Homo sapiens: one gene and its partners. The protein of the gene in region 3 interacts with the protein of the main gene of each other region in a pairwise test. Each region holds a gene or a part of one and is shown on either strand. Other genes may lie near its edges. The genes, in order: TNRC6C, PAN3 and PAN2.

What was found.
Region 1: the proteins of PAN2 (region 3) and TNRC6C interact in binary tests that used the Homo sapiens proteins (3 or more experiments, as listed by UniProt).
Region 2: the proteins of PAN2 (region 3) and PAN3 interact in binary tests that used the Homo sapiens proteins (3 or more experiments, as listed by UniProt).

The regions. Positions count from the first base shown.
Region 1 is NC_000017.11:78,043,197-78,054,018, forward strand, and holds part of TNRC6C (trinucleotide repeat-containing gene 6C protein), read left to right. Parts: intron 1-5,648; coding exon 5,649-8,252; coding exon of another isoform or gene 8,253-8,261; intron 8,262-10,822. UniProt on the Homo sapiens protein: Plays a role in RNA-mediated gene silencing by micro-RNAs (miRNAs). Required for miRNA-dependent translational repression of complementary mRNAs by argonaute family proteins.
Region 2 is NC_000013.11:28,251,619-28,262,440, forward strand, and holds part of PAN3 (PAN2-PAN3 deadenylation complex subunit PAN3), read left to right. Parts: intron 1-4,673; coding exon 4,674-4,921; intron 4,922-8,828; coding exon 8,829-8,933; intron 8,934-9,782; coding exon 9,783-9,840; intron 9,841-10,822. UniProt on the Homo sapiens protein: Regulatory subunit of the poly(A)-nuclease (PAN) deadenylation complex, one of two cytoplasmic mRNA deadenylases involved in general and miRNA-mediated mRNA turnover.
Region 3 is NC_000012.12:56,316,727-56,327,548, reverse strand, and holds the end of PAN2 (PAN2-PAN3 deadenylation complex catalytic subunit PAN2), read left to right. Parts: coding exon 1-185; intron 186-589; coding exon 590-932; intron 933-1,139; coding exon 1,140-1,236; intron 1,237-2,094; coding exon 2,095-2,214; intron 2,215-2,420; coding exon 2,421-2,540; intron 2,541-2,839; coding exon 2,840-2,968; intron 2,969-3,055; coding exon 3,056-3,255; intron 3,256-3,363; coding exon 3,364-3,500; coding exon of another isoform or gene 3,501-3,512; intron 3,513-3,635; coding exon 3,636-3,742; intron 3,743-3,950; coding exon 3,951-4,049; intron 4,050-4,164; coding exon 4,165-4,238; intron 4,239-4,339; coding exon 4,340-4,487; intron 4,488-4,790; coding exon 4,791-4,934; intron 4,935-5,066; coding exon 5,067-5,126; intron 5,127-5,380; coding exon 5,381-5,471; intron 5,472-7,527; coding exon 7,528-7,685; intron 7,686-7,784; coding exon 7,785-7,928; intron 7,929-8,061; coding exon 8,062-8,241; intron 8,242-8,367; coding exon 8,368-8,461; intron 8,462-9,114; coding exon 9,115-9,312; and 4 more. UniProt on the Homo sapiens protein: Catalytic subunit of the poly(A)-nuclease (PAN) deadenylation complex, one of two cytoplasmic mRNA deadenylases involved in general and miRNA-mediated mRNA turnover.

The DNA of each region.
Region 1 (10,822 bases), on a different chromosome or scaffold from region 3:
TGCAGCCTGAAACTTCAGTGGGCTGGGCTGGGCTGGGCACACTCCCTGCTCCTCTCCTGTGACAGAAGATGTACCAGGCCACAGTGTGGCCCCGAGGCTGCAGCCTATCCCAAGAAGTGCAAGGAGGCTATAGAGGTGGGAGAAAAGAGATGGTTGGTTGGTTGATTGGTTCCTTCTTAAGTAAAATAGCATTGTTCCAAATTGACTTCTATAGTAAAACATATTTTTTATAATTTTTTTTATTTCTGTGGGTACATAGAAGGTATATATATTTATGGGTTACATGAGATATTTTGATACAGGCATGCAATGTGTAATAATCACATCAGGATAAATGGGGTATCAGTCATCTCAAGTATTTATCCATTGTGTTACAAATAATCCTATTATACTCTTTTATGTATTTTTTAAATGGACAGTGAAATTATTTTTAGCTATAGTAAGCCTGTTATGCTAGTAATTACTAGGTCTTATTTATTCTTTCTGATTATTTTTTGTACCCATTAACCCTTCTCCACTTCTCCCCACCCCTCACTCTCGCACTACCCTTCCTAGCCTCTATCTTCATAAGTTCAATTATGTTCGTTTTTAACTCCCACAAATAAGTGAGAACATGCAAAGCTTGTCTTCATGTGCCTGGCTTATTTTAATTAACATAGTGACCTCCAGTTCCATCCATGTTGTTGCAAATGACAGGATCTTATTCTTTTTATGGCTGAACAGTATTCCATTGTGTATATCTGCCATATTTTCTTTATTCATCTGTTTATGGACACATAGGTTGCTTCCAAATCTTGGTTGTTGTGAGTAGTGCTGCAGCAAACATCGAAGCTCTCTCTTCAATATACTGATCTCCTTTCTTTTGGGTATATACCTAGGATTGAGGTAGTATAACTTATTATCAAACCCTATCTATGTTTTCAACATAGATTCATAGTCTCAGTTGTAATTTTTTCTAACTAAAAAAGATTTTGAGCTATCAGTTCCTCTTGTACTAACTTCTCTGAATAGATAACCCAGTATTTTTGCAAGTAACTTCAGTTAAGTTGGTTGCTAGTCAACATGGCAACCTAAGCTTAATCTTAACTTTACCTTCAAGACTGAAAATTTAAGCATCATTTATATTACTAGCAAACTGCTTTCAAGTATTGATAAGAATTATTCATTCATTCAATGTATGTTTATTTACTGCTTCTTCTCTGTCAGATACTCTGCTGAACACTGGCAGTAAAAATAGAGCCAGAATAGGTACGCCTTGCCTTCATGGTGTTTACAGCCTAGAGGGAGAACCAGCCAGTCACACGATGACTCACACTAGAATGTGTGCTCCATGAGAGAAAGAAGTCGTTCATCTTGTTTATGGCTGTGTCCCCAGCACAGTAGCTGCATATAGGAGGCACTCAATAATAGTTATTGTTTCAATTGAGTTGGCAAGCTCTGGGCCCATGAGCCACATCTGGCCCATCACCTATTTTTGGAAATAAAGTTTTGTTGGCACACAGCCACACTCATTCTGCTTTTGTGCCACAGCAGCAGAATTGAGTAGTTGTGACAGAGACTATATGGCCCACAAAGCCTAAAGCATTTTGGCTATTAGGCCCTTTACAGAAATTGTTTGCCACCCTGGTTGGTCTAAGTGACTTGAAAGGAAGACTGTTACAATGAATGTATGAGGGAGTCCTAACTAGGGAACAAAAACGTCCCAAATTAAATGTCCATGGATTTGAGATGGGAAAAAAGAATAGACATTGAGCCCAGGCAGGGGATGGCACCTTTAACAGCCCTGTCTTTGGGAGGGCAGGACACAGATGGCACCTCAAGGAACTGTCTGGAGCACAGAGCAGGAGAAAGAATGATATGAATGGCCTCAAAAGAGACCCAACCATTGGTGACCCACTGGGCATTCATTTGGAAAAGAGCACTGTATGCAGTGTTGAGCACATTATTGTGGGTGGGGCAGTAGGGGGCATGGGAAGAGACCTGTTGGAAAGTTATTTACAGTAATCCAGTCAAGACATGAGGGTGCTTGGAACAGGGGCAGTCAGAGGGAAGTTTTATTTCTTGTTTTAATGGAAAAGGTTCTAGAAATACCCAATATGTAAACTCAACAGGCATGACTTCATCCTTATGGCATCCTATATGGCCATCCTTAGGGCACTTCAGCTATTGGGGATGGATATTGGCCTTTGTAGAAGTGACTTTGCTTCCTGCCAGTATTGCCCCATTGGTGGTTATTTTGCTGTGGCATAGTTGAGATCTACACCTCAAAGCCCGGGAAGGTCTGAGTAGGCGGCGTCATTGTAGTGGAAGTGGTTCCCTCAGAAGATGGACGTGCTTGTTCAAAGCAGTCTGGGCTGTACAAGTGCAGCTGATTGGTGACTTCAGCTAGAACTCAGATTGTAGCACTATGCATGTATGGTTTTGTTTGCCCAGGAAGCATATATTGTTTGCCTATATGTGGCAAGCATTTTGAATGGAAAACTAAAAAGATATTTGCCACGCCCTCAAGGAACTCACCTTCAGAAATTAGACACTTAATTCAGGGATCAGATGGGTTTTTAATCAGACTGCTCTGCCGCCTGATTTGTATCACATTTAAACATAAAAATTAAAAATTTTGAAAATATTTTTTCAATAGAAGAAAGTATATAGAAAATAATATAACTGTGTTCACAATAGAGATTTAACATAATATCATGCCATATTTGCTTCAGGGCTCTCTATTTTAAAAATGTTATAGGTATCATCCTCTAACCCCATTCTGGTCCCCATCCCACCCCCAGAGGGAACCACAATTCAAAAATTGTAGTGTTGTGTCACTTTCATCTACAGTGTGACATTAAAGTGCATTTCTTGATTATTAATGAGGTTGATTATTGTTTCATATGTTAATGGCTTATGAGTTTTCTCTTTTCTAAATTGCCTGTTCCTATCCTTTTCCCATTTCTGGTTGGGTTGTTGGCCTCTTTCTTACCGATTTTTAGGATTCTTTTTTTTTTTTTTGAGATGGAGTCTCACTGTGTTGCCCAGGCTGGAGTGCAGTGGCACAGTCTCGGCTCACTGCAACCTCCACCTCTTGGGTTCGAGTGATACTCCTGCCTCAACTCCCAAGTAGCTGGAACCACAGGCGTGCACCACCACACCCGGCTAATTTTTGTGTAAGTAGAGACGAGGTTTCACCATGTTGGCCAGGCTGGTCTCGAACTCCTGACCTCAGGTGATCCACCTGCCTCGGCCTCCCAAAGTGCTGGGATTACAGGCGAGAGCCACTGCGCCTGGCCGGGAATTCTTTAAGCTGATAACCATACATTATCTGTTGTATCTTCTCCCTGCCTGTGGCTTGTTTTTTTAGCTTTCATTATATGATATCTTTTGTTATATAGATGTTTTTAATATTAGCATAGTCAAATTTATCACCTGTTTATGTCTTACGTATTTCATGTCTTCTACAAGATGATACAATGTCCAAGGTCATAGAGATGGTCTCCTTTGCTTCCTTAATAAGCTTTAAGAAGTTTTGCTTTTCCTAATTCGCTCTTTACTTTATCTGGCATGTATACGATATAAGGGATCTACTTTCATTTCATGTGGCTAGACAGTTGTCCAACAGCATTTATTAGCCACCAGCTTATAATGCTATCCTTCTTTCAAACGTGTCATATAATTGAGTATGAACCTGTCAAATTGGGGGCTGAGCAATCCTCAAGTCCTCAAAGTAGACCATTAACAAAGGGCAGATCATTTTACAGTGTGACTGTTGTGGAATGGAACCAATAATACTGTGTATTCGAATGGCACCTCACATATGGAAAAGAATGCATTGGTCAGCCAGGTTGTTAACCCCCTGCTTTCTCGGTGTGGGTTGCAGTGAGTGCTGTCTTAGTCAAGAGGCAGCCTGCCTTATGGCACAACCTGTCCATGAGGGAACCCAAACTGATGGTAAAATGAAATGTGGTAATATTTGCTGGCAACAAGCCATAATCTCTGTGTGTTAACTTGGTCTTATTTTCTGTGTTAAATGAGGAATGGCTTATTTATCTCTTTAGTTAGTTATTATATTAGATAGTTTTTAGAGTATGTGCAAAACCAAATTGTCATAAACCAGGGTTATAGAGCCAACCCCTAATAATTGGCAGTGAAAAGAACCTAGTCATTTTATAGCAGTTTCAACATTTAAAGTTTTCTGTTGCCTGTCTTCATTTTTCCTTTGTAGTTTTCACCTGGAATTACGTACCTACTTTGAAATCACCTAGAGCATAATTCTAAAATCATTACATTACTCTTAAATCAGGCAATAAAAATCTCTTTTAGGTTGATATTAGCTTTAGTATGGTCTTTCTAATGCTAATTTTTTTTGCACACTTCCTTTTTTTCCTTTAGCTCCATCAAACTTTAAAAGAGAATTTATGTGGGAAATTCATGTTTTAATTGTCCATACGATTTTTCTTGTTAAAATAAATTTGAAGAGAACATAATTAAAAGGATCTAAAAGAGAAGAAAATATTTTATTGCAGTTTATTTGTATATTGTAGTATTTAGAGAAACTCACCAAGGATTTCTAAATCACATATGTGAGTTTGTTGTATGTTTGGGTTAAATTATTTTTTTAACATTTCTTTTACTTTATTTTTTAGTGATACATACTTGGAATAAAGTCTGCCAAAAAGTTGATCGAAATATAAGTTTGACTGCAATGTTGGAAATACTCAAATAATTGTTAAAGTCATAGGAAATAAAATGTAGATCCAAACAGGGGATTCTTTAAAAGGACCCGAAGAGTTAAATACTATAAGAAGATGGCATATAAAGTTATTCTAGGGATCTCCAAAGAAAAGGCTCTAAAGAAATAGAAAACAAGGATTGAGAGAATCTTTAGAGATCCAAAAAGATAGCACTTGTGGGGCTGAGATTCTTCTTCCTTCTTTTTCTTCTTTTAGTGATGTCCTTGAGCTACAGATTTTTTTTTTTTATTATGAATGTGCAGGAGACAGTGATAAACCAAATTGCAGATAAGATCAGATAAAGTAGTATACAGCTAATTAAACATTTCTAATCCTTAGTATTTTTGATAACATAAGATAGCATTGTCTCATATGTCTTTTCTCTCTTTCCTTCCGTCACCACTTCCCCCACCCCAAATATTGGTTCTGTTATGATTCTGCAATGCAATTTACAATTTTTTTCTACTGAAAGCCATGTTTCGCCTCTATATAATACTGTAACCTAATTAGAGGTCTTAAAGAGAACTACAAGTTTTATTCAAAACTCTACGTGAACTTACTGTCATTGCCAGTGTTTCTCAGTCTCTGTATTTATAGGAGTTGCAAAGTCACTTATCTTTCAAAGCTGCCTTTACTACAGATGCTTTCAGAGATGCTGATGTGCTAACGTGCATTGTGAGTATTCTCCAGGGGGAATAATAGTACAGTGTAGTGGTAAGAATTGATATAATTTTAAAAACATTAACGCTCTTTAAAATGGGATCTATTAAGAAGACAAATAGCTTTTTTCTTTAAGTCATTTTTTTAGTGTTTGTCATTCAGATTTGAAGACTTGAAATAAAGAGCTTCCCCAAAGACTAGTTAACAGTTGATTCATTGACAAATGAGTAGAAAATCTAATTTTGAATTTTGTTTCATCTTTTTCAGATCTCAGTCATAGTGGATTGGCAGATCATTATGAAAATTCCCACTGGGGACAGCAGCCTACTTACAGAAGCGAAGCCAACTGCAGCTGGGATAAAGTGATAATAGATAGGACTGACAAGGAGGCGTGGCCTTCCATCACAGGAACAGAGACTGAATCTGCCTCAGAATGTACTACAGACACTGACTCTGCCTCCAACTGTGGCTCAGAGAACAGTAGCATGGCTACAGGGAGTGCCCAGGGCAACTTCACTGGACATACCAAGAAGACAAATGGCAATAATGGCACCAATGGCGCACTCGTCCAAAGCCCTTCTAATCAGAGTGCCCTTGGAGCAGGGGGAGCGAACAGTAATGGAAGTGCGGCCAGAGTGTGGGGTGTAGCCACAGGCTCCAGCTCTGGCCTGGCTCACTGCTCTGTCAGTGGTGGGGATGGAAAAATGGACACTATGATTGGAGATGGGAGAAGTCAGAATTGCTGGGGTGCTTCCAACTCCAATGCTGGCATTAATCTTAACCTTAATCCTAATGCCAACCCAGCTGCCTGGCCTGTACTTGGACATGAAGGAACCGTGGCGACAGGCAACCCTTCCAGTATTTGCAGTCCAGTCAGTGCCATAGGTCAAAATATGGGCAACCAGAACGGGAACCCAACAGGCACTTTAGGTGCTTGGGGAAACTTGCTGCCACAAGAGAGCACAGAACCACAAACGTCCACTTCTCAGAATGTGTCTTTCAGCGCACAACCTCAGAACCTTAACACTGATGGACCAAATAACACTAACCCCATGAACTCTTCACCCAACCCTATCAATGCAATGCAGACAAATGGACTGCCAAACTGGGGCATGGCTGTTGGTATGGGGGCCATCATCCCGCCCCACCTGCAAGGCCTTCCTGGTGCTAATGGATCATCAGTTTCTCAAGTCAGTGGGGGCAGTGCTGAAGGAATAAGCAATTCTGTGTGGGGACTGTCCCCAGGTAACCCTGCCACAGGAAATAGCAATTCTGGGTTCAGTCAGGGGAATGGAGACACTGTGAACTCAGCATTAAGTGCTAAACAAAATGGATCCAGCAGTGCTGTGCAAAAGGAAGGAAGTGGAGGAAATGCTTGGGATTCAGGACCTCCTGCTGGTCCTGGAATACTCGCCTGGGGAAGGGGCAGTGGCAACAATGGCGTTGGTAATATCCATTCAGGAGCTTGGGGCCACCCCAGCCGAAGCACCTCTAACGGTGTGAATGGGGAATGGGGAAAGCCCCCAAACCAGCATTCCAACAGTGACATCAATGGGAAAGGATCAACAGGGTGGGAGAGTCCTAGTGTCACCAGCCAGAACCCTACCGTACAGCCTGGTGGTGAACACATGAACTCCTGGGCCAAAGCGGCATCTTCTGGAACTACAGCAAGTGAAGGAAGTAGTGATGGTTCTGGCAACCACAATGAAGGAAGCACTGGGAGGGAAGGAACGGGAGAAGGCCGAAGGCGAGATAAAGGGATTATAGACCAAGGGCACATCCAGTTGCCAAGGAATGATCTTGACCCAAGAGTTCTGTCTAATACTGGTTGGGGACAGACTCCTGTAAAGCAAAACACTGCCTGGGAATTTGAAGAATCCCCTAGGTCTGAAAGGAAAAATGACAATGGGACAGAGGCCTGGGGTTGTGCAGCTACTCAGGCTTCAAACTCAGGGGGGAAGAACGATGGGTCCATCATGAACAGTACAAATACCTCTTCAGTATCTGGGTGGGTCAACGCGCCACCTGCCGCTGTGCCAGCAAACACAGGTTGGGGAGACAGCAACAACAAAGCGCCAAGTGGCCCGGGGGTTTGGGGGGACTCGATAAGCTCTACTGCTGTTAGTACTGCTGCTGCTGCCAAGAGTGGCCATGCTTGGAGTGGGGCCGCAAATCAGGAGGACAAGTCACCCACCTGGGGTGAGCCTCCAAAGCCCAAATCCCAACACTGGGGAGATGGACAAAGATCAAATCCAGCCTGGAGTGCAGGAGGGGGAGATTGGGCAGATTCATCGTCTGTCCTTGGACACTTGGGGGATGGGAAAAAAAATGGATCTGGATGGGATGCTGACAGTAATAGGTCAGGGTCTGGTTGGAATGACACCACGAGATCTGGGAACAGTGGCTGGGGCAACAGCACAAATACAAAGGCCAATCCAGGTACAAACTGGGGGGAGACTTTAAAACCTGGCCCCCAACAGAACTGGGCTAGCAAACCCCAAGACAACAATGTGAGTAACTGGGGAGGAGCTGCTTCTGTGAAACAGACAGGAACAGGGTGGATCGGGGGGCCGGTACCGGTCAAACAGAAGGACAGCAGTGAAGCAACTGGCTGGGAAGAACCCTCTCCACCGTCCATTCGCCGCAAAATGGAAATTGATGATGGTACCTCAGCTTGGGGGGACCCAAGCAACTATAACAATAAAACTGTAAACATGTGGGATAGAAACAACCCGGTCATCCAGAGCAGTACCACGACCAATACCACCACCACCACCACCACTACCACGAGCAACACCACACACAGGGTCGAGACGCCGCCCCCGCACCAGGCCGGTACTCAGCTGAATCGATCACCGTTGCTTGGTCCAGGTAGGAAAGGTATTTCATGTTTCTTTACAAGTAAAAAAAAAAAAAAAAAAGCTTATTCTCATTATATATTCATGAATACTCCGAGTAGTGTTTTTTATAGCAAATAGCATTAAAATAATTTAAGTTCCCTATCACCGTGCAATATTGTATCTAAAGATTATCCAGTGAGAGCAAAGTAGGATCCTCTGGTGGTTTTCTATTCAAGAAAAAAATATATTAAGCACACTCAGTAGAACATCAAGCGAATGTTTTGGTGGTGGCGGTGGTGGCCTGGGGTGGAGATGATGGATTTGAAAGCAATGACAGTGCATGATTCCAAGATTTCGTAACCATTTGGATACAGGAGCAAAGAAGATAGGATAGACATGGTTCAGAACTTGGGCAAGTTGGCAGATGACTGTGTCAGTTCACTGACATGCCCATGAGCACAGCAGGAGGCACAGAGCTCCAAGTGTCCAGTGAGGACAATAAAAGGTCCCAGATACGGAAGACCAGTTCTCAGCCAGAGGGGCAAGGTCCAGAGTAGAGAGATTTTAAGGTGGCAAAGTCGTGAGCATGTTTCAGAGCTGTTAGAAAGGAACAAGTGGAGATGAGAATGAATGAAGAGGGAAGAGATCCCTGTGTCCAGCAGGACAAGGGCACTTCATCCATCTCGTGAAGCAAGGAGCAGGAAAGAGCGCTGCACAGGTGGGCCAGGCTGTCATGGCCAGAGGGCCAAGGCCACCTTCTGGGGTTCTTTTCTCTCTGGGAGTGTGAATACTAGCCCAGAGTGGAGGAGGGCTGGCTAGGAGCAGCAGCACGAGTAGAGAGGGAGCATGCATTAGCCCATGTAGAGGACAGGAACAGAGAACTGACTTGACTGGGGCCCCTGGAGGGTTGCTGGGCAATGTCAGGGCCCAGAGATCACCATACACAGTGAATTTATTGGGACCTGCCATGTACTAGGCTGTACTCTAGTAGCTGGGGAAACTGCAGGAAGCAAAACAGTCAAAACCCTGCCATGGAGGGGTCTAGATCTAGTGAGGGTGGCAAACAACACACGAATTAAAGTATATACGTAGTGTTGGGCAGTGATGGTGCAGGGAGGAAACAGTAAGCCCAGAAGGTCTGCATGCGGGGGCCACTGGAGTTGGGGAATCACCATCTTGTGTAGGGCAGCCTGGGCATTTGGGCACCTTTTTGGTTTTTGTCATAAGCGTTCAACAGGAGAATGTCCTGCCTGCTGCATTAATTCAATTATGACTGCCCTACAGGACCTCCCCTGGCCCACCAGCTGGGCCCTCCAGCCTCCTCGTAGACTTCTTGGTGGTTCACTTGTGTACCTCTCTGAGGCTGCCACATCAGGAATCCTTTATGGATCCTCAAGACAGTTTTAGCCTCCAGCTAACGCATCAGTGTCACTAAACCAGAGGTCAAAAATCAGTGGTCCGTGGGCTGCACCTAGTCCCACAAATGTGCCTTTTTGGCCCACATTTTTTCTGTGAATTGGCATTTTTTTAATGCAAATGTTTTATATTAAATTCCAGATTTCTGGCTTCCTTTGGAAACCTGAAAAGTCTGACATTGGATTCACATGGCAGCAGTCAGTCAGAGCCACTTGCCTTCATAAGGGCCTGTGCATTTTCTCCATACCATGTCACGTTGCCCCCCGACCCCTGACGGTTCCCAACACTGAGGCTTTTGATCAGTAGCCACTGAGCATCATCAAGCTTGCGCTGCTGTTCTTACGCTGGGCCTGTTTACGTTAACTGACTGGTTCCTTGGAGTACTTGAATTTGTGATTCCAATTGTTTACTAATATATGACTAATATTTCTAGGCCCTTACATTTTATAAAGTACTTGGGGGGATAAGGAGAAGCAGGAAGAAGGAAAATGAAGGGATTTGAAAAATAAGATTAGGTCGGGCGTGGTGGCTCATGCCTGTAATCCCAGTACTTTGGGAGGCCAAGGCGGGCAGATCATCTGAGGTCAGGAGTTCGAGACCAGCCTGACCAACAAGGTGAAACCCCATCTCTACTAAAAATACAAAATTAGCCGGGCATGGTGGCGCATGTCTCTAATCCCAGCTACTCAGGAGGTGAAGGCAGGAGAATCATTTGAACCCAGGAGGCGGAGGTTGCAGTGAGCTGAGATGGGGCCATTGCACTCCAGCCTGGGCGACAGAGCGAAACTCTGTCTCAAAAAAAAAAAAAGAAAGAAAGAAAAATAAGATTATTCCTAAGTAAGGAATAGTCTAGTGGGACAGGCTAGTAATATCAAATTTAATAGAGTTTAATTAGCATTATAGTAAAGGTATGCAGAAAGTGATCTGAGAGCCCCCACCTGTAATCCCAGCTACTTGGGAGGCTGAGGTGGAAGGATGGCTTGAGCCCAGGAGTTCAAAGCCTGCCTGGGCAACATAACGAGACCCCATTTCTTTAAACAAACAAACAAAAAAGCTCCAGGAACAGAATTAATACAGTCATGCATAGCTTAACAATGGTGATACATTCTAAGAAATGTGTCATCAGACAATTTCAGCATTGTGTTAACATTATAAAGTATAGTTACATAAACCTAGATGGCATAG
Region 2 (10,822 bases), on a different chromosome or scaffold from region 3:
AGACAGGCTTCCCTTTTTGTTCTATGAGCTGATAGAAATGTCCTGTATTTACTGCTTTTCCAGAGTCCTGGTTTTACACAGCGGTTTTAGTTTCATTTTCTGTATTCTGTGGGCTCATGGCCACATTTCGTGTACCCTTGTGGGCCTTAGAAACTCAACTTGTAGAGACTGTATCTGACCTAGCTTATAATTCCCCAAACTCCACGACATAACCTCCTGGCTTCAGATTCTGCTTTAGTTTCTTGCTCTTGGGGTTGGTTTGTTTGTTTGTTTGTTTGTTTGGTTTTGAGACAGAGTTTTATTCTGTTGCCCAGGCTGGAGTACAATGGTGTGATCTCGGCTCACGGCAACCTCCACCTCCCAGGGTCAAATGATTCTCCTGCCTCAGCCTCCTGAGCAGCTGGGATTACAGGTGCGCACCACCACACCCAGCTAAATTTTGTATTTTTAGTAGAGATGGGGTTTTGCTGTGTTGGCCAGGCTGGTTTTGAACTCCTGACCTCAGGTGGCCTGCCTGCCTCAGCCTCCCAAAGTGCTGGGATTATATGTGTGAGCCACTGCGACGGGCCCTTTTTTTTTTTTTTTTTTTTTTAAGATCAGGTATATTTTAAATGTTGGGATGTTGTGTTTTATCTCACAGTTCTGTGTGTTCATAACATTGGTAGGGGTTGAGGGAGGGTGTCCATGTTAGTTTAGTCTCTCATTTTCCAGAAATAATATTGTCCTAACTGGTTGGTTGTATTTAGGAAGGGTGCTGATTTGGTATATATTAATTTTCTAATCATTAATGAATTCTGTAATTATTTTCCAGGAGTTTTTTATGTTGTTTCTCTTAGGTTTTCCAGAAATAGAATTGTGTTATCCAAAAAAACAGTGATGCTTTGCCTTTATAGATTAGCCTTGAAGTTTTTAAAATCTCATTTCTTTCTTTTGTTAGTTCCAGTTAATTTCTCCAGTAGACATTCCTGTGTTGTTCCTTACTTTTATTTGAATTGGGTACTTTTGAGAATCATTTTTCAAATGCCCTAAAGCAGTTAATTTATCATATATTACTTTTAAATATCTCAGTTTGCATGTTCACTTTAGAAGTTACAGTGTAATTATTGTATACTGATGTCATCAGAATGTCATTTCAAGAGTAAATGACAAAAAAAAATACAAAAAATGAAATACGAAAGTGAAATATTCTTAATTTAGAATATTTAAAATACAAATTTTCATCCTTCTAGATTGTTGTTATGCTGATCTTCTATGTATTACTATATTTGCTGTAGTGCTCTGTTGATTGAGTGTCAGTTAATATCAGGGTGTTCCAGTAACCATTGGTAGCCCTTTCCCTGCTGTATATGGAAAGATTGAAATTATACAAGAATATTTATGTGTGAAACATGAAATTTCTAATGAAGAAGAAGAAACTTCTATTACAGTGTATCTGATGTACCTCATTATTAAAAGAAGACCTTTAGTTTTATTATATCAAATGGTTTCCTGAAACCCTTTTAGCGTAAGATTCCTGTGGTTAAACATTAAATAATATGCAATGGAAGATGTCATTTTAAATTAAGAATTCTTAACTTTCAATCAGATTTTCTTAATTTGAGCAGAATCTGCTCATTTTAATTCAGCATCCTATTTTAAACTACTTGTTCCTGTAGTGTGGTTCTATTCTTTCTTGCTGTTTATAATTTAGTACTGTATGTAGGCACTTAAGAATGGGCATCTTGTTAGTATTGTCTTCATAATACTAAATACAGAATACCTCTCTCCAAGTGGATGTGTAGATATTTTACTCAGTTCTTTAACACACTTATAAAATATACAGATGACACAAAGCTGTGTCTTTTGTGATTAGATTAGGTATTTCAGTAATTTAGTTTTTAATTTCCTATGCAATTTAAGTATCCTATTATCCTTATTGGCGGGGGTGGTGATGCTTACTGTTGTACATGTTTTATTTTGAATGTTCTTTCTTTGCTTTCCTTTTTTTTTTTTTCCTTAGAGAGACAGGGTCTCGCTATGTTACCCAGACTGGAGCACAGTGGCTGTTCATGGGCGCTTTGTGGCTCATGCAGCCTCAAACCCCTGGGCTCAAGCGATCCTCCTGCCTCAGTCCCCCAGGTAGCTGGGACTACAGGCTCACACCACTGCACTCAGCTTACATTTGAATGTATTTAAGTAACTCCAGTCAGCCTCAGCTCAGATGAACTCAAATTTTATTTCTGCAACTTTATATTAAAATAACCTCACAAAATTTAGAATTCTTAAGAGAACTCTTGATACCCTATAGTAAATTCTACTATAGGTGAATTTCTATCTTAACTCACCTTAGATTGTTTTTATGGTAATCTCTTTCCACGTACTCAGCCTTGAAGAGAGATTCTACTTTTTGTCTCACTTACATACCTACTTTGATGTCAGAATCTTTCCCTTCAGCCAATGCTACACATAGCCCCATCCCCACGTAGCTTTAGTAGTCACACTAAAGCTAGTAAAACATGTAATTGATTTCCTGTTTTCGTATGTGTGTAAGACTTAGGAATTGGTCAACTATATAGCATGTTGGCTGAGAGCACTGACTTTGGAATTAAATCAACCTGAGTTTGAGTCTTGATTATGTTGCTGAATTACCTATATTTGTCCTTACAGTAATTATTTTGATCTTTTAAGTTAGTTTCTCCTCTGAAATAAATATGCTATACCTACCTCACAGGGTGGTTGTGAGGATTAAGTAGATTGATGGATGTGGAGCACTTAGATTAGTGCCTGAAACATTGAAAGGGCTCAAGAATTGTAGTTCTGTTGTATTACTTAATGTCATAATAGTAAACAAATTTACTCATCTTTGGTTACTTGGCCAGTTTATTTTGGAAAGTCTTAGAGACTAGCTTTAGGAAAATCTGTCTAAATGCATTTCATTTTAGACAAGTAGGGAGTTTTTATCCATTGATAATAGTCTAATATAATTTTTGCTGTATGGATTAACCTTTAATTAACTGTACAATATAGAGTTAGATTAAAAACAGCTCTGGAATAGTTTTTAAAAAATAAAATAAAAGGTTTATATAAATATAGTAATTTGGCTTCATATTTTTTTTAAGGAGTTTGGGTTTTTTTAAAGTTTCTTTTATACACATTTAAGACATAACTCGAGAATTCCTATCCTATTTTAATCTCAATGCAGTAGACATTGTGTTATAGTAAGTAGGAGTACTAGATTGGGAATTTGGAGAGTTGAGTTTGAGTCTTGGCTTTGCTGTTGACTTTGCATGTATGTCCTGTGGTGTTTATAGCCTGATTTACCTCACCTACCTACTTTAGTTGCTCAGAAAACCAGAAATAATTATGTTGAGGCTCTTCAGAAAGTACAGAGGGCTATCCAAAGAAAAGAAAAGTATTACCTCAGTTCTCTGCTTATTTTTGTTCACCTACATGTTTTCAGAAAACATGTTGGTATCTTATGAATTATTAGAAATTGAAACTCATATCCCTGTTAATCATAATTTTGTGACTAGGGCATTTTTGGTAGCCCTTTTCTTATATTGTGAGGTGGCATATTATTTCAGTGGTGAAGGTTTTTAGGCATTCACCAAATAGCCAGAAAACAGTTCCTGGATAAGCTTATTTTTTTCAGGAAGGGTAACTGTTGCTCTAAATACCCTTTTCAGTCTGCTCAGAACTGATCACCTCCATTAAGCCTTTGATTAACGCTACCTGGTTTTAATTAATTTGCATTTCATCAGCATTTATGCATGTAGTTTGTAGTGTATTAGTTTATATTTGGGTTTTTTTAAGTTATTTTATGTCTTTTACATGTGACCTGGTCTTTTTTTCTCAGCTAGCTTGGAATCTCCTGAAGGGTAAAGACAATTGTCCTTTCCCTTTCTTCACAATAAACTCATAATAGAGGGCGCTTTGCACATAATGTTTCTTACTGGTTGTGGTTGTTCCACTGGAACATAGTGGTTGTTCCACTAGAACATAATGGTATCAATTGGCCTAATTCTAAATAGTATGCATCTGTAGAAATTTTCAGAGTATGCCTGTTTAGAGTTAATGACAAAAAGGCATCAAAACAACAGACTGCTTGATACTAAAAATATGGCACTTAAGCTGCTATGTATTTCAACTTTTTTTTTTTTGCTTTTTCAAACAATTTTGTTAATTATATTTGGCTGAATGAAATCTAGTAGCTCTTCATTAGATAATTTGAATTTTTAATACTGTAATATATTTGGGGAATGTGCTATTTGTATTGTTAATGATTCTTAATAAAAAAGGAATTATGCCTTTTATAAAAGAAAAACTTTTATAAAAGGCATAATTTTATAAAGAGCCACAATTCTGTTACTTCCCACTCTTCCATTAATTTATTAAATTTTTGGTCACTCTTGCTATTAAATTTCCTGATGTAAACCTTGATATGGAGGAGACTATTCTTGCAGTAAATCTGCTAACATATTTGGAAATAAGTACATTTGAAAAAAGAAACTTTACATTTGCTTTAATCAGAGCTTTTTCTACAACAAAACAAGATAAAATTATTTCCTTCATCTTTGCACTTACGATCCCAAAGATGATGTTTCTTCCAAATGAATGTTTGCATTTTATTTTCCAGACTTGTTCTCTAAAACCAATTATTGCTCCATTAAGAAACATTTTTACATCTTCTTCAGGAATGTCGTTGTCTGCTGGGTCTTCCCCTCTTCATTCCCCCAAGATTACTCCACATACTTCTCCTGCTCCCAGAAGAAGAAGTCACACTCCAAATCCAGCAAGTTACATGGTGCCTTCTAGTGCCTCTACATCTGTTAATAATCCTGTTTCTCAGACTCCGTCTTCTGGTCAGGTGATCCAAAAGGAAACTGTTGGTGGGACGACTTACTTCTATACAGACACAACTCCAGCACCTTTGACTGGAATGGTATGTCTACATTAAAGAGGAAATTTTAGTACTCTCTTGTAACAGGACCTTCTTAGTTGTGAGGCGGTCTACCCCCTCCTGCAGCTTTTTATTGTGATGCAAAAAAGTATTTCATTTTCTAACTTAGATGAGAAGTCTAGTCTCTTCTTCTCAACTCTTCAAATTAATCTAGTTCTGCCTTACTAATAATTCTAGTTTTGGACTAAACTGGTTTAATCAGAAATTAGATTATATCCATGCTCTTATTTTAGTCTTTATGGCATGTTTTGCTTATGGGTTTACCTTGTACTAGCTGGAATTGATGCCTGCTGACATTTGTTTATAGGTATAGATAGTTTAACCTCAGTAAGAAGCTAGAAAAAGTAGATGGTATGTCCTCAGTAGTTACTGGAAGCAAATCAATGATAAACCCTTATTTCAGATGAGGTAGTTATTTAACAGCTAGATCTGTGGATGGTGGAGTGACACATAATGATAAGGGGCCTGCAGTATGGCTCTTATGCTCAGGAGATAGAGTAGTCAGACCCAAGAGAGCCATGATTGTAGATGACGAAAGAGCTACCAAAGGACTGGCGATGAAGTGAGGGAAGAATCGTGAAACAAATGGGAAGAGGTGGCCCCAGAGGAAACATGAATATTAAGACCAAAAGAGGAAGAACATGGCCAGAAAGAAAGATTTCTTATCAGAGTCAATTAGTAATGTTCCAGGAGAGGGAGAAGGAACAGGAGTCAGGGGGCGAGAATGAATGGGGAAGGAGAGGGAAGGATTCCATGTTACGTAAATTGTACCTTTTTTAGCTTCATTACTTCATCCATATTCAAAAATTATTTTATTTACCCTAGAAAAATAAGTAGTAGATGAAGTGAGTGAGAAAGTCAGAGTCCACTAAAACAGGGGTCCTCAATCCTTGGACCAGAGACCAGTGTTAGGAACCAGGCCGCACAGCAGGAGGTGAGCAGTGGGCGAGTAAGTGAAGTTTCATCCGTATTTACACCCACTCCCCATTGCTCTCATTACCATCTGAGCTCCTCCTCCTGTCAGATCAGCAGAGGCATTAGATTCCATAGGAACATGAACCCTATTGTAAACTATAAATATATTGTAAAATACATATATATTTTATATATATGTAAAGTTATTAAATTATATAAATATATATTATATATATTATATATAATTAATATATATTATATATAAATTATATATAATATATAATTAATTATATATTATATATAAATTATATATAATATATAATTAATATATAAAATTATATAAATATATATATTTTTTGAGATGGATGTTCGCTATTTCACCCAGGCTGGAGGGCAGTGGTTCAGTCTTTGTTCACTGCAGCCTCCGCCTCCTGGGTTCAAGCATTCCTCTCACCTCAGCCTCTAGTAGCTGGGACTACAGACGCACACCACCATGCCTGGCTAACTTTTGTATCTTTAATAGAGATGAGGTTTCACCCAGTTGATCAGTTGGCCAGGCTGATCTCAAATTCTTGACCTCAAATGATCCGCCCACCTTGGCCTCTGAAGTGCCGGGATTACAGGCGTGAGCCACCATGCCCAGCCTAAACTATGCTATCTTATGTAAGGAAACCAACACAAGAAAAAAGAGATATTATTCTCCCTGCAGACACAGGCTAAAGGAAACCTTACAAGTATCACAAAACTGCTTCCTAGTTGAGATGCAGAGCAGAGCAGTCATGTTAGGGCAGCGCAAATCAGCTGAATTCGTTTTTAAAAGAGAAAAAAGGTTTCATTGTTTAAAATGAAAGAATGAAAAAATAGAAAAGATATTTAAAACTGAACTTTGATTTTGTATCATGGACCAGTGAAGGAGAGGCAGAGAAAAGAGTGATAAAGAGAACAAAGGGTGGTGGGATGAGTCCAGTTGAAAGAATGAAAGACAAGAAGCTGGAAGCTGATTTAGTAACTTTATTGTAGTTTGCTTGGAAGGTAAATGTATTATTGTATCCTTCTGTTCACTTAAACTGCTGACCTAGAGTAGGTTTGAATAACACTTTGTTTAGTTTGGCCACAAAATGCCTGTGAAAGGGGAAATTCTTTGGGCAGCCAGGGCAATATCACTTCCTTATCTCCCAGTACCCAAACACCTTTAGTTTCTCCTTCCTTCCTTCCAGTTGCTTTCAAAAAGTGGCGATGAACTGCTTGTATAGTTGCCATTTAGTATCCAAGGGGGATTGATTCCCGGACGCCCACAGATAGCAAAATTCCTGGGTGCTCAAGTCCCTGATATAGAATGACATAGTATTTGCATAGATCTTATACACATCCTCCTGTATACTTTAAATTATCTCTAGATTACTTATAATACCTAATGCAGTATAAGTGCTTTGTGAATAGTTGTTATAATGTATTTTTAATTTGTATTACTTCTCATTTGTTGTATTGTCATTTTTTTCCCCTGAATATTTCCTACCCATGGTTGGTCGAATCCTTGAATACAGAACCCAGGGATACAGAAGGCTGACTATGTGACATTTCTTCCAAAGAGCTACTTTTATCTTCTCAATGGAGCTTAAATTTTACTGTATCTGAAGAAATGTTTTCTTTCTCATTAGATTTTTTTTTTTTTTGAGACAGAGTCTTCCCCTGTCCCCCAGGCTGGAGTGCAGTGGCACGATCTCGGCTCACTGCAGCCTCCACTTCCCAGTTTCAAGCGATTCTCCTGCCTCAGTCTCCTGAGTAGCTGGGATTATAGGTGCCTGCCACCAAGCCTGGCTAATTTGTGTTTTTTTTGTTGTTTTTTTTTTTGAGATGGAGTCTCGGCTCTGTCACCCCAGCTGGAATGCGTTAGTTCAATCTTGGTGCACTGCAACCTCCACCTCCGGGTTCAAATGATTCTCCTGCCTCAACCTCCCGAGTAACTGGGAGTACAGGTGCATGCCACCACACCCGGCTAATTTTTTGTATTTTTAGTAGAGACAGGTTTCACCATGTTAGCCAGGATAATTTTTGTATTTTTAGTAGAGATGGAGTTTTACCATGTTGGCCAGGCTGGCTCATTAGATTTTTAATTGATTACTGAAATATTATGTTTATTTTTATTTTTTTAATTTTTTATTTTATTTATTTATTTATTTATTGAGACGGGGTTTCATTCTTGTTGCCTAGGCTGGAGTACAATGGCACAATCTCCACTCACCACAACCTCTGCCTCCCTGGTTCAAGTGATTCTCCTGCCTCAGCCTCCTGAGTAGCTGGGATTACAGGCTTGCGCCACCATGCCCCACTAATTTTGTATTTTCAGTAGAGACCAGGTTTCTCCATTTTGGTCAGGCTGGTCTCGAACTCCCAACCTCAGGTGATCTGCCCACCTCAGCCTCCCAGAGTGCTGGGATTACAGTTGTGAGCCACTGCGCCTGGCCGAAATATTATTTTTAATATGAATTCTTTCAGAAAGTATTCTCTAACAGCTATTCTCTGAGGTTTTTACTTCAATATTATTTAAAGATTTAAAATGTATTAAAATTTATTGCTATCATGTAAAGATTAAAATTTTATCAAAACAATAATAAAGCTTATTGATTATGAAAAATTAGTCAGGCTGGGTGTGGTGGCTCACACCTGTAATCCCAGCACTTTGGGAGGCCGAGGCAGGTGGATCACCTGAGGTCAGGAGTTCAAGACCAGCCTGGCCAACATGGTGAAACCCTGTCTCTACAAAAATACAAAAATTAGCTGGGCATGATGGTGGGTACCTGTAATCCCAGCTACGTGAGGCTGAGGCAGGAGAATCACTTGAACCCGGGAGGCAGAGCTTGTAGTGAGCCGAGATTGCGCCACTGAACTCCAGCCTGGGCAACAGAGCAAGACTCCATCTGAAAAAAAGAAAGAAAAATGAGTGATTACATTTACCCCCTTCCTACCTTTTTAGGTGTTTCCAAACTATCATATTTATCCTCCAACTGCACCTCACGTTGCTTATATGCAACCGAAAGCAAACGCACCTTCCTTCTTCATGGCTGATGAACTCCGACAGGTATGCTTTCAGAATTCATAGTAGGAATACTTAATGTCTCCTGTGCTTTAGTGAACAGGGGAAAGAACAGAGCTCTTTTCAAATCATATTATTTAATCAAATATGCTCTAGTAAAGCACATCGAATTTAGAAGTTTTAATTGGTATTTTTTTTAAGGAAACCTGTCTTTTAAAAAAATTTCAAATAAATTATGTGGCAGGATATAAAACATAGAATAGCTATTTAAATGGTTCACTGTTCTGTACTTCATTTTATTTCTATGAAAAGGCTCTTTGAAGTATATAAATAATTTAAATGGTTTCTAACAGTATTTTTCTAATAGATGTAGGTTAAAAATAAGTAGTTTGGCTCAGGAAATAACTTTAAGAGAGCTCAATATTTTTTTAAAAGAATGTTTTTTAAAAGTTTTTTTGTTTTGTTTAATTTTTGGTAAACAGCTAGTTATTTGGTATGTAGAATTTCACTTTACACTCAGATTCTCAGAAATATTTTTGTTTCATAGAAGTGAGTTCTACCAGTATAGTGTTTTTTAAATTAATTATTACCAGTTTACTAGTAGACCTTGAATTTTCAGCCACAGCGTTAGTCACGTGTTTTGGGTAGCCCAGCTACCCGTGTTTAAGGGGCACATCTACTTAAACCCAATCTTAATTATGGCATGTCTAAGTCTGTCTGGGCCTGGAGTTCAGACATTTTACCATGTTTAGAAATGTTTTAATATTTAAATGATTTTAATATTTAAAAAGTGCATATGCCAAAAATATTAATACTTAGGTTATTTAATTATAATAGGAATTCCAGGTTTCAGAATCTGTGTTTAAATAAAAATATACTTATTTTGTTTCATAGGAGCTGATCAACAGACATTTAATAACAATGGCTCAAATTGATCAAGCAGATATGCCAGGTAAAAAGCAAGTTGATCCTTCCTTTCTTTTAAAGGCTGTTATAATTCTTACGTGGTAGTACATGTTTTATGCATTATTAAGAAGAGTTCCAGGCTGGGCCTGGTGGCTCATACCTGTAATCCCAGCAGTTTGGGAGGCTGAGGCAGGAGGATTGCTTGAGCCCAGAAGTTTGAGACTAGCCTGAGCGAAATAGTGGGAACCTGTCTCTACAAAAAATAAATTAGCTGGGAGTGGTGGTGCATATTTGTAGTCCCAGCTACTCAGGAGGCTGAGGCAGGAGGATCACTTGAGCCTTGAAGGTTAAGACTGCAGTGAGCTGGCTATAATCGCCCCACTGCACTCCAGCCGGGGTGACAGAGTGAGACCCTGTCTCAAAAAAAAAAAAAAAAAAAGGACAGTCCCAAGGTACTACTGATCATCTAGTTTATTTCTGTTAATTCTACATATGACAGTATTCTAGTTCACAAAAAAAGTATATAATTTTAGAATTCATGGTGATTTACTTTACTGTGCACCAGAATATTTTTATCTCCTGAAACTTAATGAAGTATGGGTTCTTAAGCAGGAGAGGATGGTAATTATTAGGCCTATTTGTGAGACTACTGTGTGCCAGACAGTATACTAATTAAATACTTTACATGTCTTACTTTATTTCTCACAAACATCCTGTGACATATTATTTTCATTTCCATTTTACATATGAGGAATACTGAAGTTGACAGGTTAAGTAACTTAACCTTCAGGACCAATGGCTGGTAAACAGCTGACTGATTCCAGACTTAAAACTAGGTTGTTCTAACTGTACCACAATATTTCTTAAAGCGTATTAAAGTATCTTTCCTTAGCTTACTCTGTATAAATGAAATATGATATAATTTAGTAAAATTTCATAAATAATACAGTAGGAATACATTTGCCATAAAGATCTCAAAATGCCTGCTTGTAATCAGAAATTCAGCATCGTCTAGTGAGTGTTGTCTC
Region 3 (10,822 bases):
TGGCAACCTGCTAGCTGCCTGTGGCTTCTCCAGCCGCCTCACTGGCCTGGCCTGCGACCGTTTCCTCAAGGTGTATGATTTGCGCATGATGCGTGCCATCACACCACTTCAAGTACATGTGGATCCTGCCTTCTTGCGCTTCATTCCTACATATACTTCTCGTCTTGCTATCATCTCTCAGTCAGGTATGAAGGGCATATGGGATTGGGTAGGAGGGATCGATGAGCAAAGGAGAGCTAGAACCCGAAGGAGTACTCATCCTGAAACCTCTTTGTTGGGGAAAGAAGTAACCTTTCATCAGGGTCCCAAGGTTTTACTTGGGTTTGGCCAGAGATTAGAGCTTTTATTTTCTTGAATATGAGGAACATGGAAAAAGGTAAAGATAAAGTAGGCAAAATAACTGTAGAATTGCTCTTTGCTGAGTAGCGAACCATCTGTGGTTTATGGAAGGCACGAAGTGGCATTCTGTCTCTAGGCATGGATTTGGGGCCCATCTTGTCCTGAAATCAGGGGAAGAGGATAGGAAGGGCATAAGAATATGGCTCCCTTTCACTTTCTAGGGCTCAGTGGGTTTCTTCCTCCTTTGTAGGGCAGTGCCAATTCTGTGAACCCACAGGCCTGGCCAACCCAGCCGATATCTTTCATGTGAATCCTGTGGGGCCTCTGCTAATGACATTTGATGTGTCAGCCAGCAAGCAGGCTCTGGCCTTTGGGGATTCTGAGGGCTGTGTGCACCTCTGGACTGATTCCCCGGAGCCTTCCTTCAACCCCTACTCCCGTGAGACTGAGTTTGCTTTGCCGTGTCTCGTGGACTCACTGCCTCCTCTGGACTGGAGCCAGGACCTGCTGCCTCTTTCCCTCATCCCTGTCCCACTCACCACTGACACACTTCTCTCTGATTGGCCTGCTGCCAACTCTGCTCCAGCTCCCAGGTTGTACCCTACCTCTGGGCCAAAAGGCGGGAGGGACAGGGAAAGGGCCAAGATACCAGAATTCTCTGCTAGCCCTGTTGTTATTCTACTACTTTCCTGATTTTTGTCTACCTTCAGTATTTTCTTTTTCTCTGGACCCTTGGGGATTGGGGAGTGGACCAGTGTACACCACAACTCTTTAAGTCCTAGAACTATGCTGGATTGTAGGCGAGCACCACCCGTGGATGCAGAGATTCTGCGCACCATGAAGAAGGTGGGCTTCATTGGCTATGCGCCCAATCCCCGCACCAGGCTGCGCAATCAGGTGTGTTCAGAGTGGAGGGTCAGCCCCGACCCCGGCCCACTGAAGTTTCTCCTATCTTTTTCCTTTACTAGTCTTTCTTTTGTTTTTAGATCCTGTTGGTAACCAACCAAATTGATGGAACTATGCTAGGTGTTAGGGAGGATTCAAAGATAGAGAAGCTAGGGTCCTTGCTGTTAGGAAGTTTAGTATTTGGTTGGTGAAGAGAAGACATAGCCATATCAGAAATTACGTTCTGTTGTTAAATGCTGAAGGAATGTCATAAGCATTTAGTGCCAGAGCTGTTTGGAGGAAAAATGTTATTCCAGGCTAAAGTGACCAAGGAAGGTGTAATGAAAGAGCTGGGTATTAAGCTGGAAAGGTGGGATATCAGTTAAGTAGATAGTAACAGAGGAGAATATCCAAGATGAGAGAAGAGTGTTAGTAAAGATCTCAAGAGGCATAAATGCAAAACACATATCTGAGGGGGACTACATGAGTATACCAGTCTGGCCGGAGTAGCTGTTGGTATTGGGATGTAGTGAGCGATTAAAATTAGAAGTGGCCAGATTGCGAAGCTTTGAACACCAGTCTATAATAGAGGAAGTAATACACAGAAAGCAGCATTCTGCAAGGGTTAATTTGGTAGTGGTGTGCTGGACAGAGTGAACATAGGGAGACCAGTGTGGACGCCATCACAGTTGTCCATCTGTGCTGAAGCAGAGTGATGGCAGTGGAAATAGAAAGGAAGCAGCGGATGCTGAGAGTGCTATGAATATAGAAGGTTCAGGACTTGGTGGCTGTTTCAATGTTGGGATAAATGAGTGTGAAGCCAAAGATGACAAGACATCCAACAAGGTTACCTCTTCCTAAAATCCCTAGATACCCTACAGACTCAAGGAGTCAGACAGTGAATTTGACAGCTTCAGCCAGGTCACTGAGTCACCAGTAGGACGAGAAGAGGAACCACATCTCCACATGGTTTCTAAGAAATACCGCAAGGTGCTGGGGGACATCAGGGCCTGTGGGATGTGGGGAAAGGTACCCTGGGAAGGAAGTCATATGAGAAAGGATTGAAGGACTCAGTCAGGAGGCCTTCAACTACCACCCTGGACCCAGGAGGAAGGCTCTAGGAAAGGCTGTGGCTACTGGAAAGATTTGGGGACTCTGAGAATATCCTTGTCTTGCTCAGACAATTTCTACCTTAGGTGACCATCAAATATTCCAAGCTAGGGCTGGAGGACTTTGACTTCAAACACTACAATAAGACCTTGTTTGCTGGATTAGAGCCCCACATTCCCAACGCCTACTGTAACTGCATGATCCAGGTAAGGGTTGGGTATTCCTGTAACTTGAACGTGCCTGCTGCTTTTCTTCTTCCCTATGGCTCTCGACCCTGCTCTTTCCAGGTCTCCTCAGCCGTGTTCTCTTTACCATGGTCTCCTCTACAATTCTTTCTTGCCTCTACAACTTTCAAGTCTCCTCTGAGCTCCACCGGTTTGGTGGACTCACTGCTTCGGTGGACTCCTGCTTCTGGGACATTTTCTCCACCAGCTCACTTAACCTCCATATTTCTCCTCACCCCCAGGCCAGTTTCCTACATCAGTTCTTCTGCTTTTCCCTCCAGGTGCTCTATTTCCTGGAGCCTGTACGCTGTCTAATTCAAAACCACCTTTGCCAGAAGGAGTTCTGTCTGGCATGTGAGCTGGGCTTCCTGTTTCACATGTTGGACCTCTCTCGTGGTGACCCTTGCCAGGTCAGTACTTGGAGACACTTAAAATGGAAGGGGAAGGAAGGTGGACACAAAAGACAAAATAACCCCTTTCCACCAACACATTTCCAGGGCAATAATTTTCTTCGGGCATTCCGTACTATTCCTGAGGCCTCAGCCCTCGGTCTAATCCTGGCTGACTCAGATGAGGCCTCAGGCAAGGGCAATCTGGCCAGGCTCATTCAGAGGTGGAATCGCTTCATTCTCACTCAACTGCATCAAGATATGCAGGAGCTGGAAATACCACAGGCTTATCGAGGTGCTGGAGGCAGGTATGAAATCAGGATAGAAATAGTTAAAGCCATCATGACAGGCCCCTCTGTGATTTAAAAGGTCTCCTAACTTCCTCAATGTGCATATATCATCCTCTCCACTCTTAGCAGCTTTTGCTCATCGGGGGACTCTGTTATTGGGCAGCTCTTCAGCTGTGAGATGGAGAACTGCAGCCTCTGCCGCTGTGGCAGTGAGACCGTGCGAGCCTCATCCACTCTGCTTTTCACACTCTCCTACCCTGATGGTAGCAAAAGTGGTATACCCTTCAGCTCAGTTGGGAAGGCTCCCCAAAATGTCCTGTAATATCAGGGAGAGGGTGTTGGGGACTAACTGTGGGTAGAGGGGAGAACCAGGAGTATAGCATCTAATTTTCCCTCAGATAAAACTGGGAAGAACTATGACTTTGCTCAGGTGCTGAAGCGAAGCATCTGCCTGGACCAGAATACACAGGCCTGGTGTGACACCTGTGAAAAGTACCAGCCCACGGTGAGTGGACTGTTGGACTGGACTAGAGTCCTGGTCCTGCCATGGAGATTCAGCCACTATCCCATGTGGGGCTGGCTCTGTCAGCACTGCCATCCAGGGATCTCTGGTGGAGTGAGGAATCCCAGTTTGAAGACGCAGACCCAGGTCCCTGTCCAGACTCCTTTTCCTGTACATTCCCTGCCATTCCTTGTTTGTTTCTTCCTCTCAGATTCAGACCCGCAACATCCGCCATCTGCCAGATATTCTTGTCATCAATTGTGAGGTGAACAGCTCAAAAGAGGCTGATTTCTGGAGAATGCAGGCTGAGGTAAGGACTCAGACTAGAAACAAGGCTTCCGGAATAATTTTTCATTTTATCCCCCTTCTGACCTCCATATATGATTACATTCCTGAAGAACTGGATGTTTTTCTTCTGTGTTCAGGTTGCCTTCAAGATGGCAGTAAAGAAACACGGTGGGGAAATCTCCAAGAACAAGGAATTTGCTTTGGCTGATTGGTAGGTGCTGTCTTGGGAGTTGTCAAAGGATTGAATTGCCCAGTGGTTCCTCTTATCAAGACCTCTTTCGGAACAAATTTCCAATTCTTCTGACCTGATAGGAAGGAACTAGGGAGTCCAGAGGGTGTGCTGGTGTGTCCCTCCATTGAGGAGTTGAAGAACGTCTGGCTTCCTTTCTCCATTCGCATGAAGATGACCAAAAACAAAGGGCTGGATGTTTGCAATTGGACTGATGGGGATGAGATGCAGGTTGTTGAAAAACCGGGAAGAGGAAAGGGAATAAGGGAGAGAAGGTGGGGCAGAAGGTAAAGGAGGGCAGGGGAAGGTGAAACTTAGCAGAGGGAAAAGGAAGAGAATAAGGCCTAGTATTTACCTGTTAGGGGATTTTCCATAGTCACTCAGTTCAGTGTTGGGGTCCTAGATGGGCTAGGATGGAGATAACCCACCCTGGTCCCCCATCCCCCATACCCCCAACTCCCTGTCCTCTGTCCCCATTCCCCTCCCTTCCCCATCCTTAAACTTAGCTTAGCAGCCTGGGTACCCCCCTCACAGTGGGGCCCAGCCAGGGCAGAGGAGGAGCATGGTGTCTATGTGTATGACCTGATGGCTACTGTGGTACACATCCTGGACTCACGCACAGGGGGCAGCCTGGTGGCTCACATCAAAGTTGGAGAGACCTACCACCAGCGCAAGGAGGTGAGTGAGGTTGTAGAGGGCAGGAACACTCCTGGGATGGCCACAGTGAGTCCCAGATCTGTCCTTGAGTCTGAGACAGAGTGGTCCAGCCATCAATTTGTATCGCCACAGGCTTTCTTTGTATTTCCATAGGGCGTTACTCACCAGCAGTGGTATCTGTTCAATGACTTTCTTATTGAACCTATTGATAAGGTTAGTTGCAACATGTTCTGTTTCTTCTTTCATTTCCCCTTTTCCTAGCATCCTTATCTTTAGGGCTCTATAGAATGCCAGGCAGATTCAACAGGGAGGGAGGAAGGAATCCTCAGGAATAAAAACCATTAGCACTTAAAAATAGCACCTGAAAAAAAACAAAAACTAGCACCTGAGTCCTGGCCTCCGTCTGAAGTGGGGGAAAAGGAAAAGGGTGATATACATTAGCCATAAGTGCTTTTTCTCTTCTATAGCATGAAGCTGTGCAGTTTGACATGAATTGGAAAGTACCTGCAATCCTTTATTATGTCAAACGGAATCTCAATTCCAGATACAACCTGAACAGTAAGTGCTACATAGTAGACCCAAGTGTGTGGACAGTTTAGATTGGGCTTCAGGGTGAGATCTGGGACATTGCTTGCAAGTACTTAGGATTGGTAACCAGTGTTAATATTTCTGGAGATACTAAAGAGATTCCTGCTCATCAGACCTTAAATTTAGAAGTGCGAAATCCAGCCTGAGCAACATAGCAAGATCCCATCTCTTTGAAAAAAAATTTTTTTTTTTTTTTTGAGATGCAGTCTTGCTCTGTCACCCAGGCTGGAGTGCAATTGCGCAATCTCGGCTCACTGCAACCTCTGCCTCCTGGGTTCAAGCGATTCTCCTGCCTCAGCCTCCTGAGTAGCTGGGATTACAGACGCCCACCACCACACCCGGCTAATTTTTTTGTATTTTTAGTAGAGACAGGGTTTCACCATGTTGGTCAGGCTGGCCTCGAACTCCTGACCTCATGATCTGCCCGCCTCAGCCTCCCAAAGTGCTGGGATTACAGGCGTGAGCAACTACACCCAGCCTAAAAAAATTTTTTTTTTTTTTTTAATTAGCCTAGTATAGGCCAGGCACAGTGGCTTATGGCCTGTAATCCCAGCATTTTGGGAGGCTGAGGCGGGCAGATCACTTGAGCTCAAGAGTTCAAAACCAGTTTGGGCAACATGGTGAAACCCTGTCTCTACAAAAAATACAAAAAGTAGCTGGGTATGGTGATGTGCTCCTGTTGTCCCAGCTACTTGGGAGGCTGAGGCAGGAGAATCACTTCAGCCTGGGAGTCAGAGATTTCAGTGAGTCAAGATTGCATCATTGCACTCCAGCCTGGGTGACGAGAGTGAAACCCTGTCTCAAAAAAAAAAAAAAAAATTTAGCTGAGTGTGGTGGCATATACTTGTGGTCCCAGCTATTGGAGAAGCTGAGGCGGGAGGATCACTTGAGCCCAGGAGGTCAAGGCTGCAGTGAGTGAGCCATGATTGCACCAGTGTACTCCAGCCTGGGCAACAGGATGAGACTGCTTTTTTTTTTTTTTTTGGACAGAGTTTCACTCTTGTCACCCAGGCTGGAGTGCAATGGCACAATTTTGGCTCACTGCGACCTCCACCTCCCGGGTTCAAGCAGTTCTCCTGCCTCAGCCTCCCGAGTAGCTGGGACTACAGGCACCTGCCACCATGTCCGGCTAATTTTTTGTATTTTTAGTAGAGACAGGGTTTCACCATGTTGGCCAGGTTGGTCTTGAACTCCTGACCTCGTGATCCACCCTCCTTGGCCTTCCAAAGTGCTGGGTTTACAGGCGTGAGCCACAGTGCCCAGCCTGAGACCCTGTCTTAAAAAAAAAAAAAAAAAAAAAAAGCAGCTGTAAGTCTTGAGAGTGGAGTGGAAATGAGATGAGGGGGGGATGTTTGATCAGAATGGCTTAGGTTATGATGTTACATCTAATTATTCTTTTTTTTGAGACAGAGTTTCGCTCTTGTTGCCCAGGCTGGAGTGCAATGGCATGATCTCAGCTCACTGCGACCTCTGCCTCCCGGGTTCAAGCGATTCCCCTGCCTCAGCCTCCCAAGTAGCTGGGATTACAGGCATGTGCCACCACGCCCGGCTAATTTTTTTTTGTGTCTAATTAGTAGAGACGGGGTTTCACCATGTTGGGCAGGCTGGTCTCAAACTCCTGACCTCAGGTGATCCGCCCGCCTCGGCCTCCCAAAGTGCTGGGATTACAGGCATTAGCCACCGCGCCTGGCTATGAGCTCCTTATTAAGTACCTATTTGGTACCTTTAAACCATAGTTTCTCTGTAACCTTTTTCTGGATTCTGTAAACTAAGGTCCAAGTGAAAATCTTATTCTTTCTTCTCTGTGGTCTTTTCTGGTTTTTTCTCAGCATGTTTGTTGATAATTTTGTGATGTGACCTGCTCTGTCTACCTGTCCCATTTATCAGACATGATCTTTTTTCTCACGTGCTTTGATTATTGAGGGATCACAGTGAAGACCCAGAGTCGATGATCAGCCACACTGGGCTTCTCTCCCCTAGTCACTTCCCTATCCAAGCCCTGTGTCCTCTGCATTCTCCCTTCTAGTCAAGAACCCTATTGAGGCAAGTGTCTTGCTGGCTGAAGCCTCGCTGGCACGGAAGCAGCGGAAAACACATACTACCTTTATTCCACTGATGCTGAATGAGATGCCACAGATTGGGGACCTGGTGGGTCTGGATGCTGAGTTTGTCACCCTTAATGAGGTAACCAAGACCAAAGGGATGGGGCATTGGAAGAGAACGCTGAGGATATTAGGAGTTGTAAGCATTTCTCTGATTTCCTTATTAACTCTTCTCATGTAGGAGGAAGCAGAGTTACGCAGTGATGGTACCAAGTCTACCATTAAACCAAGCCAGATGTCAGTAGCCAGGATTACCTGTGTTCGGGGCCAGGGACCCAATGAGGGTATCCCCTTCATTGATGACTACATCTCTACCCAGGAGCAGGTATTAGGATATGGAGATGCAAGTGAGGCACACCCTGGTGCTTACTTACAGTGCTCAAGAACCCAGGGAAGAGTGATAGGGGAAGACTCCATCTCACTTCCTGAAAAAGGCTTGTCCTTTTCTCTATTCCTAGGTGGTGGATTACTTGACTCAATACTCGGGTATAAAGCCTGGTGACCTCGATGCCAAAATTTCCTCCAAGCACCTAACAACTCTCAAGTCTACCTACTTAAAGCTTCGTTTTCTCATTGACATTGGAGTCAAGTTTGTGGGTCATGGCCTGCAGAAGGACTTCCGGGTCATCAACCTGATGGTTTGGCAGGGCTCTTTTAAGAGTCTTCTTGTGAGAGTGGGCCCCTCAGGGTATACATTGTGCCTTTAGAGAATGGGGAATTATAGGTCCCCTACCTTAAGTCTCCCCCTCTTTTATCCTTGCCAGGTGCCCAAGGACCAAGTCCTTGACACTGTCTACCTGTTCCATATGCCCCGAAAACGAATGATTTCCCTGCGATTCCTTGCTTGGTACTTTCTGGGTGAGTTGCTCTGCCTTGTAGGCCCCTGCTACATTAATAGCAGAAGCAGCCATTTAAAAAAAAAGAAATCATGTTCTTTGCGGCAACATGGATGGAGCTGTGGGCCATCATACTAAGTGAACTAACTCAGAAACAGAAAATCAAATACCACATATTCTCACTTATAAGTTGGAACTAAACAATGAGTACATATGGACATAAGAATGACATTAGGGACTCTAAAAGTTGGGGTGGTGGGTGAGGGGTGAGGGTTGAAAATTACGTATTGGGTGCATAGTTCACTATTTGCATATTAGGGATACCAGAAGCCCAGTCCCCACCAGTACACGATACACCCATGTAACAAACATGCACATGTACCCCAAATCTAAAATAAAATTTAAATATAAAAAATAAAAGCATGGGGGGAAAAGAAAAAGTAGGAAAAGTGTTAGAGGACAAAATGGGAGTAGGGGAGACCCTCAGTTAGTGGTGACAGTTACTAATGGATTTAATTAACTTCAATATCCCTTCTGTGCACTGAGGAAGATGTCTGACAATTTTCCTTAAGGGCAGTCAGGCTTTTTAGTTTTCTGGAGTCAGGTAGGAGTGGGGAGACATGTTCCTACCTCCCTTTGCTGGGTCCCAAACTATTCCACCTTTACTTACCCCAGACCTGAAGATTCAAGGGGAAACCCATGACAGTATTGAGGATGCCCGCACAGCCCTTCAGCTGTACCGAAAGTATCTGGAGCTAAGCAAAAATGGCACTGAGCCTGAGTCTTTCCACAAGGTGCTCAAGGGTCTTTATGAGAAGGGCAGAAAGATGGACTGGAAGGTGCCTGAGCCTGAGGGCCAAACAAGTCCCAAGAGTAAGACCTGGGATGGGACAAGGGAAACTGGACTGGGTGGATTTTGTATTTTGTTTGTTTGTGACAGGGTCTCACTCTGTCACCCAGGCTGAAGTGCAGTAGCGTGATTACAGCTCACTGCAGCCTCGACTTCCTGGGCTCAAGTGATTCTCCCACCTCAGCCTCCCAAGTACCTGGGACAACAGGCACACACCACCACACCCAGCTAATTTTTGTACTTTTTGTAGAAACAGGATTTTGCCATGTTGCCCAGGCTGGTCTTAAACTCCTGGGCTCAAGCGATCCACCCACCTTGGGCTCACAAAGTGCTGGGATTACAGGCATGAGCCTGAGCGCCCCCAATTGGGTGGATTTTGATTGCACATATGGAGAATAGCACTTAACAGTTTACAAAGCACTTCATCCTCCTAACATTCAGTAAAATACATTTTATCGAAACTCTCCATTAACTATAACTTCCTCTTGCCCAAGTCTAAAATGTTCAGGGAAGGTCCATGCCCTTTTTTCTCTTGCATTTTTCCTTCATAGGAAGTATGAGAAGATGCTTTTTCTCCACTCAGCTTGAATCATGCTTTTGGTTTTGTCTCTGACAGATGCAGCTGTCTTCTCCTCAGTGCTGGCGCTCTGACTACCCTTCCCAAAGAACCACGGCCCTCTCCCTTTACTGTTCTATAGCCCCAGAACTGGGAGATGGCTTCCTAAGTTGGCTATACCTTGTCCACTTCCAGTACTGGACGTGCTCAGGGTCTAGGGTCACAGATGGTGCTATTAATTGAACTGGAACACAGCAGAATTGTTGCAAAGGTTCTAGGAGCCAGATTCATTCCTTCTTCATTCTTTGCAAAACAGTGGTACAGACATGGAGTCTAGAATTGACCCAGATGGAAAGTAATTGGTATTCTTAATATCCTGGGTGACTAATATCCAGGCAGAGAAGCTCCTGGAACCATAACTGTAAGTTCCTAGCTGGCTAGGGATTGAAGTCCTGGACAGTGACAGAGGATACCACAGTAGTTCAAGACTTAGCACAAGTCACCAACTGCTTCAGGGATACCTGGAGGGGCCAGCAAGTAGAGTGTTGGTGGCCCAAGCAAACCAGTGTTGCCAATACCATTGCCAAAAGGGCCTTTGGATCCTGGACAAAGCTTGGCTGCCGGCTTCATTTATTCCTGCTGATGGCTGAGAAGCATCTGTCTTCCATCCCACTTGCCTGTCCCAAGTTTTGTTCCATTTTTTAAAAATTTGTTGTAAACTGCATGTTTTATAAAATAAAAATAAAATATCGTTTGTTATTTATCTCATTAGAGAACTGCTAGTGTGGGTTCTCTGGCTTCAGTCTTCCTCTCCTTCCTTTGAAGGTAAAGGTCCGGAATCCAAAGTTATGGATATGAAAGGGTATAATTAGGCCGGGCGCGGTGGCTCACTTCTGTAATCCTAGCACTTTGGGAGGCAGAGGTGGGTGGAACACGAGGTCAGGAGTTAAAGACCAGCCTGACCAAGATGGTGAAAC